Linked DNA regions of Homo sapiens. The protein of the gene in region 2 interacts with the protein of the main gene of each other region in a pairwise test. Each region holds a gene or a part of one and is shown on either strand. Other genes may lie near its edges. The genes, in order: IQUB, KATNAL1 and CEP57L1.

The links.
Region 1: the proteins of KATNAL1 (region 2) and IQUB interact in binary tests that used the Homo sapiens proteins (3 or more experiments, as listed by UniProt).
Region 3: the proteins of KATNAL1 (region 2) and CEP57L1 interact in binary tests that used the Homo sapiens proteins (3 or more experiments, as listed by UniProt).

What each region holds. Positions count from the first base shown.
Region 1 is NC_000007.14:123,454,527-123,458,184, forward strand, and holds part of IQUB (IQ motif and ubiquitin-like domain-containing protein), read right to left. Parts: intron 3,041-3,658; coding exon 2,855-3,040; intron 2,751-2,854; coding exon of another isoform or gene 2,667-2,750; exon of another isoform or gene 1-2,666. UniProt on the Homo sapiens protein: Adapter protein that anchors the radial spoke 1 (RS1) complex to the A microtubule of outer doublet microtubules in axonemes. The triple radial spokes (RS1, RS2 and RS3) are required to modulate beating of the sperm flagellum.
Region 2 is NC_000013.11:30,206,488-30,210,145, forward strand, and holds part of KATNAL1 (katanin p60 ATPase-containing subunit A-like 1), read right to left. Parts: intron 2,252-3,658; coding exon 2,053-2,251; 3' UTR 1-2,052. UniProt on the Homo sapiens protein: Regulates microtubule dynamics in Sertoli cells, a process that is essential for spermiogenesis and male fertility. Severs microtubules in an ATP-dependent manner, promoting rapid reorganization of cellular microtubule arrays.
Region 3 is NC_000006.12:109,101,893-109,105,550, reverse strand, and holds part of CEP57L1 (centrosomal protein CEP57L1), read right to left. Parts: intron 1-3,658. UniProt on the Homo sapiens protein: Centrosomal protein which may be required for microtubule attachment to centrosomes.

The DNA.
Region 1 (3,658 bases), on a different chromosome or scaffold from region 2:
TAGTAGTTATCATTGCAACATGGAGATAGGGATGGGTGGACATCAAGAGACCTTTTTTCCCATTGAAATAAGGTCCATTCTCTTGAAATAGCCATGTGATGGTTTTAAACTATGTTCACAAATTCTTTGGGTGTACAAATAGTTCTAAGAATATTACAGAAAGGTCCCATATACCCCACACCCACATTTTCCTGAATGTGTCTCAATCTGGGTTTGTCCTGTGTTTTCTTCATTATTATTAGACTGAAGGGATGGGTTTTGGGGAGGAAGACCACAGGGGTGAAGTGCCCTTCTCCTCACATCATATCAAGGGTACACACCATCAGCATGACAGCACTGCTGCTGTTAATCTTGATTACCTGGCTGAGGTAGTGTTTGTCAAGTTTCTCTACTGTAAAGGTCCTCCCCTTCCATCCATAATATAGTCTTTGGAAAGGAGTTATTATGTACAGCCCACATTTAAAGGGTAGAGAGTTATTCTCCATCTCCTTAAGAGTGGAGAGTATCTACATAAATTATTTGGAATTCTACATGGGAGATTTGTCTATTTGCCTCCCTTTATTTATTCATTCAGTCGTTTTTTAAATTTTTTAAATTGATAATAATTGTACATATTTACGGGGTACATAGTGATGGGATGATACATATATCATGATCAGAGTAATTAGCATATTCATCTCAAACATTTATCATTTCTTTGTGCTGGGAACATTCGATATGCTGCGTCTAGCTATTTGAAACCATATATTGTAATTAACTATAGACAACCTACAGTGCCACAGAACAGTACTAGAACTCACTCCTCCCATCTAGCTATAATTTTTGTATCCTTAACAAATCTCTCCCTGTTCCCTCAACCTCTGAGACCTTTACTTTCTACATTACATTTTTTATTCTGTTCAGATTCTAAGCCAATAATATATTGCTTTAAAATTAAAAATAAAATGCATCAAAAATTTTTAAAGTGCTTTCATAGTTACTACCTAAGTTTATTCATGCCAAAAAAAACTATGCAGAAAGCTTTAAATAATGGCCTACTCAAAGCTTCCCTATGATGAGATACCATTATCTCTTTTTTATAGACGAGAAAGCTGGGTCATTGAGACATTCACAAATTTGTCCAATTTCTCCCAGCTCATGAATGGTAAAGCTAGAATTCAGAGCCAGAGCTGCTTTTATCCTCTTTACTGATTCCACTTATTTAGCTAATCTTTCTAAAAATTTATGAAGCAAAGAGGGAAGGTTTTAATGTAAAGTTGTCAGTGACAGAGATTTGAGTTAACTGGGTCAGGATTACTGATTTTAAGTCCATGATTGTTCCTACTTTGGCCAGTGTGCACACAAGGAGAGATCAATCTGCTCCACTTAAAGTTCACATTAACGAAAGTGTTTTTCCACGTTTCCTATACCTGTTTCATATTAACTTGCAAGTATTTTTTTAACTTCTTAAGAAAGCAAATATCTCTGAACATTAAGAAAATTCTGAAAATGCTCCATCTTTCTGCAAGATATAAACTACTCTTTAACTGGGCTGAAAGTTAATAGTTAAAAGATTGTATCAGCCCAAAACCATAAAAAAGGCAAATGTTTTTCCAGTTTGTCTGCTTGCAAATCTTGGTGCCCTTTACAGAAATTCGATAAGACTGGCATTCTAAATTAGAAATGCATGTGAATAGAACATTTAATTTGATACTGCAGTAATTTGATTAAATGCACAAAGGGAGTTGTGTGGATTAATTGAAGAAGCACTGGAATATCAGCTTTGGGAATGAACTTCAATCTCATCATGGGTCCTAGATGAAATGATATTGCTAGTATTGACTATGCTTCCTGTGATTAAATATTTATGAGGCAGCTTAGTTTACTAAATATAACATTTAATACAGCTTCAACTTATTGCTACCTTTTCTTTCAATCCCTAGAGTGAAATTTTTCTTAGCCTGGCTTCTTAAAACTAAAAAAATATTTAAAAACTAAAACTTTAGCTAGTTTCTTATCTTTATATTCATCACCCCTTGTTCCACTGAAAAAAAACAAACAGGGAATCACACTATTTTAAACGACTACTGCATTTTGTCATTTCTTTACTTTCCTTTAGCTGACACCTTGTGTGGAATTAAAGAATGCAGAGAATCAGTATTAACTCTCGGGATCCTGGACCTAGTGTAAATGGAGCTCTCTACGAACTCTTCAGGAGTCCCTCAACTTACCCATCAAAATGTTTTACAGATTGCATCATGTAAGTTACTAAAATTACAGTAAATGGCATTTAATGTTTACAGTGCTTGCTCCACTCCCAGCAAGTTGGAAGCAAATGAAAAATGGAGCATCAGAACTACACCCCATCAGTATGATTGCTATTTAGAGCACAAAATTATGAACAAAATTTGAGAGTTGGGTGTTTTTAAGCAGACTCATGATAATTAATCAAAGAAGGACAGATTCTGGGTTCCATAATACCTATCTGGTGGTAATGCACATTTATTCATTCAACAAATACTTATAAACTCCATTCTGTGACAGGCAGTATTGTAGGTATTAGAGAAATAGATGTAAATAAGCCAAACAAAATCACTGCCTTCATGGAATTTACCGTGGAATGTGCTTAAACTTACTATTAGGAGAGACTGGTATGATGTTTAGGACTTGTAATATGTTCAAATCTCTTATATATACCTTTTATTTAATCTGTGCCATATATGCCATCCATAAATTTTTTTGTTGTTAATCCATAAGTTCTGTTTCTTAATCTGATGGAAGTATTTAAGCATGGAATATATTAGAAGGCAGTCCAGTTATCGCTAATAATTCCAATGATTAAATTAACTTCCCAAATAAAATTCAACTTTCTTACCTCTTCAATACTTGTTAGCTTGAGATGAGCAGCTGCTTCATCTTTGGTAAGAAGAATGCAGTTCCAGGGGGACCACTCCAGGGATTTATTCCATCTGACCATGACCAGATCACTGAGATTGTCGCAAGCACTGAGGACTGACTGGGACGCCCAGATGTTCTCTGTCAGGTACTGAATGTCTTGTAGCTGCATGTCAAAGCAAGTTTTAAAAACAATGTAGTTTAAATTTGTTTAAGATTATTATATTACTTGAGCAAATAATTAAATTATAGAGTATTTTTAAGTGAATTATTATTCACTAGGTTTCAATGACACATAGCCCCTTATTTTTCACTAAACTTCTGTTCATTTTGCCTAAACTACATTATCAGTCTCACAGTTGCGTCCCCATCTCTAAACCAGAGTAAGCAGTATAAATTCATTTCAGTATGCTAATTTTACCTGAATATAATCTTAATAATACTATAATGTTACCATAATAAACATATGGTATTGAATGATCTTTAAAATTCATTAGTAAGTACCATCTTAATTTCAGGGCCATTGTAGGGACCTTTTAAAACCTTTTACTGCCATTTTACAAATGAGGAAGCTGAGATTTTTTTTTTTTAATATGGAACACTTCACAAGTTTGCATGTCATCCTTGTCCAAGGGCCATGCTAATCTTCTCTATATGGTTCCAATTTCAGTATATGGGCTGCTGAAGCAAACACAGGAAGTTGAGATTTAATAAAGATAAGTAATTCACTTAGTGTTAATTAAAAGACTTGGTTGTTTTAATCAAAAAGAGGGGTAATGAAATA
Region 2 (3,658 bases):
CTGCTTAACTGGTATTAAAAGAATCACAATTACTATGTCATTATCCATGAAGAATTCAGAAAAATAATTAAATGCACACCAAGATAATCAATACAAAACCCAGAAAAGGTCTAACTAATCAACTATTGTTAGGCTGGTGCAAAAGTAATTGCGGTTTTTGCCATTGAAAGTAATGGAAAAACCACAATTACTTTTGCACCAACCCATTACAAACAAGTTTTAACAATCACAAGACTAATGTTTTAGTGACGGCTCCTAAAACTTCAGGGAAAAAAAAAGTGCATTTCTGACTGGCAATAGTTTGCAAAATAATCGTAATGAAACTACTTATTTCTTTATTTTAAAAGTTAATAAAAGGAAACCTCTCAATTTTTAGGAAGAATTCAATTACAATAAAATCATGATGTCTTATGATCTGGCATCTTATAATCTGTGTCTCAGAAAGAAGGGCAATTTACAGCATCAGATGAATACTGGAGTTTAGGTCAGACTTAAGTTATCTGAAAAGAACATAAGGCATTTACAGTTTTTAGCAGGGAAAAATAATCAAATCTCTTTTTTTAAAAAAAACCTTCTTAGTATCTTGGTTAAATGTCCAAAAAGCTGTATTATTTTTAGTTTTAAACCAGTAGGCACTATTCGAAACTGAGAATTCAGGATGTTATCAAATACAAATTTTTAAAAGCTTGACCATTAAAGCATAAATTGCCTAATGAGACACATGTAATCATAAAAACTAACGCCAGGATCATTTACTTGTGATTGGATATATGCCATTTATTTTTCTGGCTTCTTTCTAATGTGTAATTCCTGCTGAATTGAGTGAGCATGTCAGATTTCTATCTTTATCTTAGTGTGTGTAAAAGTTCTCAACCTAGACAAGGACAAATTTTAGAATTTTCCAATGAACATCATTCACTATGTATGATGCTGTTTTGTTAAACTAGCTGTTTGGAAAACAATAAAGATTTCATTTGTTTTGCGTTAGCCACAGAGAGTGGACTTGTTTAGAATGTAAAAGTATTTATCTCAAATACTAAAATCAAACTCAAGAAAAATCAAACAATGCTGGAGCTGAGAAAAATAATGGCTATATATCTGGTTGAACATGTTGAAAGAAAAGTGAAAACACAGCCAGGCATGGTGGTGCGCACCTGTAATCCCAGCTACTTGGGAGGCTGAGACAGGAGAATTGCTTGAATCTAGGAGGCAGAGGTTGCAGTGAGCCAAGATCAACCACTGCACTACACAGCCTGGGTGACACAGACTCCTTCACGCACACACAAAAAAGTGAAAACAAACTTGGAAGTCTAGAATGAAGAATTACATCTAATGCAGTAATATTCTTCCCACCTTTCCATATTAAATGTAAGAAGCACCAGCAAAAAATACTAAAGACAGAGAAATGACCTGGCAAAATGATTCAAATACCACAGAGCGTGAGAATATTCCTCAGTAAAGCTCAAGATATTATGAAGTAGCTAGCAGAAGAAATGGCAGGGGTAGCGGAAGTAAAAATTCTAACCATATGACAGACTCTAACAGTAAGTCATAAATTCTAAAGGTTTAATTAGTAAATTCATTATTTCCTCCAAAATATACTGTCATTCTTCTCTTAACAATGAATGTTTGACACAAATCCAATTTTGATGTTAAAAGTCAACATACATAGATAGGTCCCTCATGTTGACAGAGCACAGAATTGGAAAAAAAAACTGCAAATGAGAAATAGGGGTATTTCTAAATCTTCTGTATTCCTAAAATATCACACTGCGCCCTTGCTTCAGCCTCCCTGATAGACTGGTTTGGGTGTGCAATATTAATGCAGGAATACGTGGAATACCAGCACAAAGCCGGGGAGGGAGACTAGCAAACTCTCGCCATCAATTATTTCTCAACTACATTTAGTATTCTTCGCAGTTTTAGATTTTTTTTTCCTTTAAGCGAAAACCACTCCACTGAAAAAAATTCCAAACTTGTTTTTTAAAAATTGCAGGAATTTCTTCGTATTTTATCAACAAAAATACCAGAAATTAAAGAGCTGACAGAAATTCAAGCAGATCCAAATTCAACCATCCATTTTTCATACTTCTCCAAGTCTGCAGCAGAGACAGACTTAGCAATTTTCTTTAGGGCCAATTCAAAGTCTCCTTTGGTAACAGGCATCTGAAGTTCCTCTTTAGAAAGTGCACGGATTTCTTCTGGACTTAAGCCATTGATACGCCGTCTCATTGCCATTAAAGAGGCATCCCTAAAAATATACCAAAATCAGTCAACAGTAATTTTTGCACATGTTTTAAACACTTTCAATTGTAACAAAGTTATGAAAAAAAAATCAAAAGATTATTTTATATGTTTTTATGAGGCTTCTTAGAATTTTCCACTTAAGAAACATCCTGGGGGTTCAGCAGAAGTTAAGACAGGATGCAAACAACCAAAAACATGAAATGTATAGTTAACGAACCCTAAAAGTCTAAGTTAAGCTCGAATAGTACTGAATTTTCTTTTCTCCACTTGCTCCTCAAAGACAGCCAAGAAGTTTAGGAAACTGAAGTCAAATTTTGAAATACTGAATTGTACACTTGGAAATGAACATATGGCTAATGTTAAGATAATTCAAACCACAGACCAGTTTGTCTACAGCCTAAATAGAGGAATAAAGACACGAATCACTCCCTCTGAAACATGAATATCCACATATAGTGGACATGGAATTCCCTACATGGAGTATTTGTAGGCAACTGAAGGCATAAACTCTGGCTTCTCTTGATCCCATGTGCAGCTCTCTTTGACCAACTATAAATAAATATGAAGGTCTGGAAGAAAAGGATAATTCATAATCACAAAAAAGCTATTAGGAAGGCCAAGCCAACAAAAATGTCAAGTTCTTAAATATTTTGCTATAGTAGCAGTAGGAACTATTGCAACCTTATTGTATGCCACTAAACTTGGATGCACATGGGAAAAATGCGAGCAGAAAAGGTGAGAAAAACAGATGCTGTGGCTTTAAAGAAAGGCTACTAAAGTCAATTTAAGTGCAGTTAGAAAAATAAGAAAAAAAATAACTGCAGTGACAGGAACTGTCTAAAACTTATGATGTCGCTAAACTGAAAAAATTTTAAACGTGTATCTTCCCCAGCTTACGCTGATCATTTTTGCTCATTTGCATGTGTTTAAATAATGCCAACAAAAACTAAATAATATTACTTTAGGTTGATGCAGAAAGGCTCCAACACAAAGCTAAACTAATCTTAGGTTGTCAAAGTCATTATTATCGAGTTAGACACAATAATTTCTTTTTTTTTCTTTTTTGAGACAGAGTCTCGCTCTGTTGCCCAGGTTGGAGTGCAGTGGCGCGATCTCGGCTCACTGCAAGCTCCACCTCCCGGGTTCATGCCATTCTCCTGCCTCAGCCTCCCGAGTAGCTGGAACTACAGGTGTCCGCCACCACACCTGGCTAATTTTTTGTATTTTTTAGTAGAGGCGGGGTTTCACCGTGTTAGCCAGGATGGTCTCGATCTCCTGACCTCGTGATCCACCCGCCTCGGCCTCCCAAAGTGCTGGGATTAGAGGCGTAAGCCACCGACACAACAATTTCTTAAAAATCCAAAGATCAAAAACATCAACGACCACTGCTATATAATTTTCATCTCACAAT
Region 3 (3,658 bases), on a different chromosome or scaffold from region 2:
GGCCTGAGGTGAGACAAAAGGGACTGATACAAAAGAAAAGAGAGTAAATAAACTTTTACATATGTGGGAATTTGGTATATGAAAAAGAGGGCATTTACATGGAGAAAGGATTGGCTATTCAATATTCACTATGCCAATATTCACTATACAGTGCTATCCACACGGTAAAATATAAACATATATCTCTACTCCATGCCAAACACAAAAATAAATTCTAGCTAGACTGAACATCTATACGTGAACAACAAACCTTTGTTTTAGAAGAAAATATAGAGTACGTTTCAGACTTTGGGTAAGAAGAGATTTCTTAAAACAAGACAATTTACAAATAAAAAAGAAAAAATGATAAAACTATATAAAAATTAAAATGTCTGTATAACAAAAAACATCATTGATGATATCTTTAAAAAAGAAACATATATAACATAAAAGATTAGTATCTGAAATACAGAAACAAGTTCTATCCTATAAATTATTAAGAAAAACACAAAGGTCAATTAACAAAGGAACAAAAGGTACAATGGAAGTTAAAAGACAAGAAAACACGAATAGCTAAAAGGACAAAAACGTTCTACTTCATTGATCAGGAAAATGCAAATTTAAACAATACAGAAATTATTTTACACCCATTAGATTGAAAAAAATTTTAAAAGAAGCCTATCAGGACCCAGTGCAGTGGCTCATGTCTGTAATCCTAGCACTTTGGGAGGCTGAGGTGGGAGGACTTCTTGAGCCCAGGAGTTCAAGATCAGCCTGGGCAATACTGTGAGACCCTGTCTCTACAAAAAAAAAATTTTTTAATTAGCTGGGTGTGGTGGCACACACATGTGTTCCCAGCTACTTGTAGGGCAGAGGTGGGAGGATCGTTTGAGCCCGGGAGGTTGAGGCTTGCAGTGGGCTGTGATTGTGCCACTGCACTCTGGTCTGGGCAACAGAGTGGGATTCTGTCTCACAAAACAAAACAAACAAACAAAAAACAAACAAAAAAACACGCCTATCAATATTAAGTTTTGTCAAGGATGTGGGGAAATGAAAATTCCCATGAACTGCCAGTGGGAGTGTAAACTGGTAAAACAAAACATAACTTGAAAAATGTGATCCTGTGTATATCCTATAACTCAGCAATTCCACTTCTCCGAATTTATGAGTGAACCCTAGAGAAAATGGCACATATCTGGACATATGTATAATGATGTTCACTGCTGCACTGATTGCAACAGAAAAAAATTTTTTTTTTAAATAAATATACATTAATAGGGACTGGATAAATAAGTTGTATCATATTCATACAATGAAACACTATACACCAGCTAAAATTTGAAAACAAGATCTACATTTAGCAACACAGATAAGCTCTGAAAATATATTGTTGAGTAAAACAGAAAGTAAGTTACAGATAGTAAGATATCTTCTATGTAACATTTTTTTAAAAGACAAAGACAATATATGACTGTGCCAAGAGCACTTTCACAACCTATGTGATATTTCATTTCATTGAAAAAAAAAAAAACAAAAACTAAAGCAAACTAGGTAAAATGTTAACATTTGTTCATTCCAAGGGGTAGTTTAAAAGGGTATTTATTTTGTTACTCTTATTTTTTGTTTGAAATATGTAATGCTTTTAAAAATGACATATAATTTTAATATCTTACCCCTATATATGTATATATTCATGTAAAATGTGGATAAGGAAAATAAGTAGAAAAATAAGAATAAAATCAGTAGTGAGACTGGTTTATAAAATTCATATTGTATGTTGCGTATATTGCTAGAGCTCGCTCACAAATCTTTCAAGAAGAGCAAAATGAAAATAGATTCAACAATTATTGGTTTTTAAAAATCTATCCATTAATATATGTCAGAAATACTAGAGATTTAGTCATTCAAAGCATACTATAGTAAATTTGGAGACACCAAAAACAGAAAAACTGGAGAAAATACTGAAGAGTAAACTTGATTTAAGTGGTTTACTCATTTATTCCTGAAAGATGGAACCAAAATAACATAGAAAAAAGGGGCATGGTATTCTGAGAATAGTATGTATGACAGTGTTTCAGAAAATATGTTTTTGAAGGGCTGAAAAGAATATCATTCAAATCAATCTTGTTAAGGAATTCAAATCGACCTTGTTAAGGAAAACTTAAAAATAAAATATACAGATTCAAATTAAGAGCCTTTATGATTCATTTGGGCAATACACATATACCCCACACATAAAAGTACACATATAGTACTTGGTTGACAAGACATTTTTCAACAAGCCAAAAGAAAAACTAAGGAAGCATTTAGAGGCAAAACTGCTTATGCTACTATACAGTAAATAATTAGTATAATTTCCTTTAAAAACTTAAGTTGAAGTCAGTTATCATAGAAAGAGATATTTTAAGTTTACATGGCTTCAGTGTTTCATTGTAGAGAAGGGTCAAACTATTGTGGAAAAATCACAGGTTGATTTTTGCAACCTTGTAAGACTAGGCAAAAAAGTAGCAAAAAAACAAAAACAAAAACCAGCAATGTAGACAAGTAACAAGGTAATTCAATTGGAGAATAATATTCTTAATTGTAGAAAGTCTTCCTAACAATTTTCACTTACAGCACTCAGCCAACTGCACATGCTGACAACAGATAACTAAAATGGAACTGTTAGTCCGGTTTCCTGATACATTCCAGATAAAGTTCTCCCTGGCCTCATCTTTAGGCTGACTTCAGGTCTCTCTCTCAAGGAACAGTTTTGAAGAATGGCACCAATATAGTTGTACAGATTCAGTATAATGGTCTTTAAAAAAAAGTTTTTCACCTTTTAATATTATTGATCAAAATAATAATTTCAGATCCAGCAGAAACTTTTTAATAAAAACATAAATCTAGGCACAGACCTTATACCTTTTACAAAAAAAAAACTAAAAAATGGATCATAAACCTATATGCAAAACACAAAGCTGTAAAAGTTCTGGAAGACAGGAGAAAATCTACATGACCCTGGGTATGGCAATGACTTTTTAGCTACAACACGAAAAGCATGATACATGAAAGCTGGACTTCACTAAAATTAAAAATTTCTGCTTTGCAAAAGACACTATTAAAGAATGAACAGACAAGCCACAGACTTGGAGAAAATATTTACAAAATGCAGGTCTGATATAGGACTTGTGTGTCCAAAATATACAAAGCACTCTTAAAACTCAATAGTAAGCTGAGCGTGGAGGTGCATGCCTGTAGTTCTAGCTACTTCGGAGGCTGAGGCAGGACTGCTTGAGCCAAGGGGTTTGAGGTTACAGTGATCTATGAAAGCAACACTGCACTCCAACCTGGGTGACCTAGGGAGACCCTGCCTCTAAAAAACAAAAACACTCAACAGTAATAATAATTTAAAAATGGACAAAAGATCTGAAAAGACACCTCACCAAACATGATACACAGGCAGCAAATAGGCGTATGAAAAGATGCTCAACATATGTCATTGGGGAATCACCAATTAAAACAATAATGAGATACCATTACATACCTATTAGAACAGCTAAAGTCCAAAACACTGATACCACCAAATCCTGGCAAAGGTGGGGCGCAACAGGAACTCTCATTCATTGGTGGGAAATAGAAAATGGTACTGCTGCTTTGAAAAACAGCTGTATGGCTGGGCGCGGTGGCTCACGCCTAT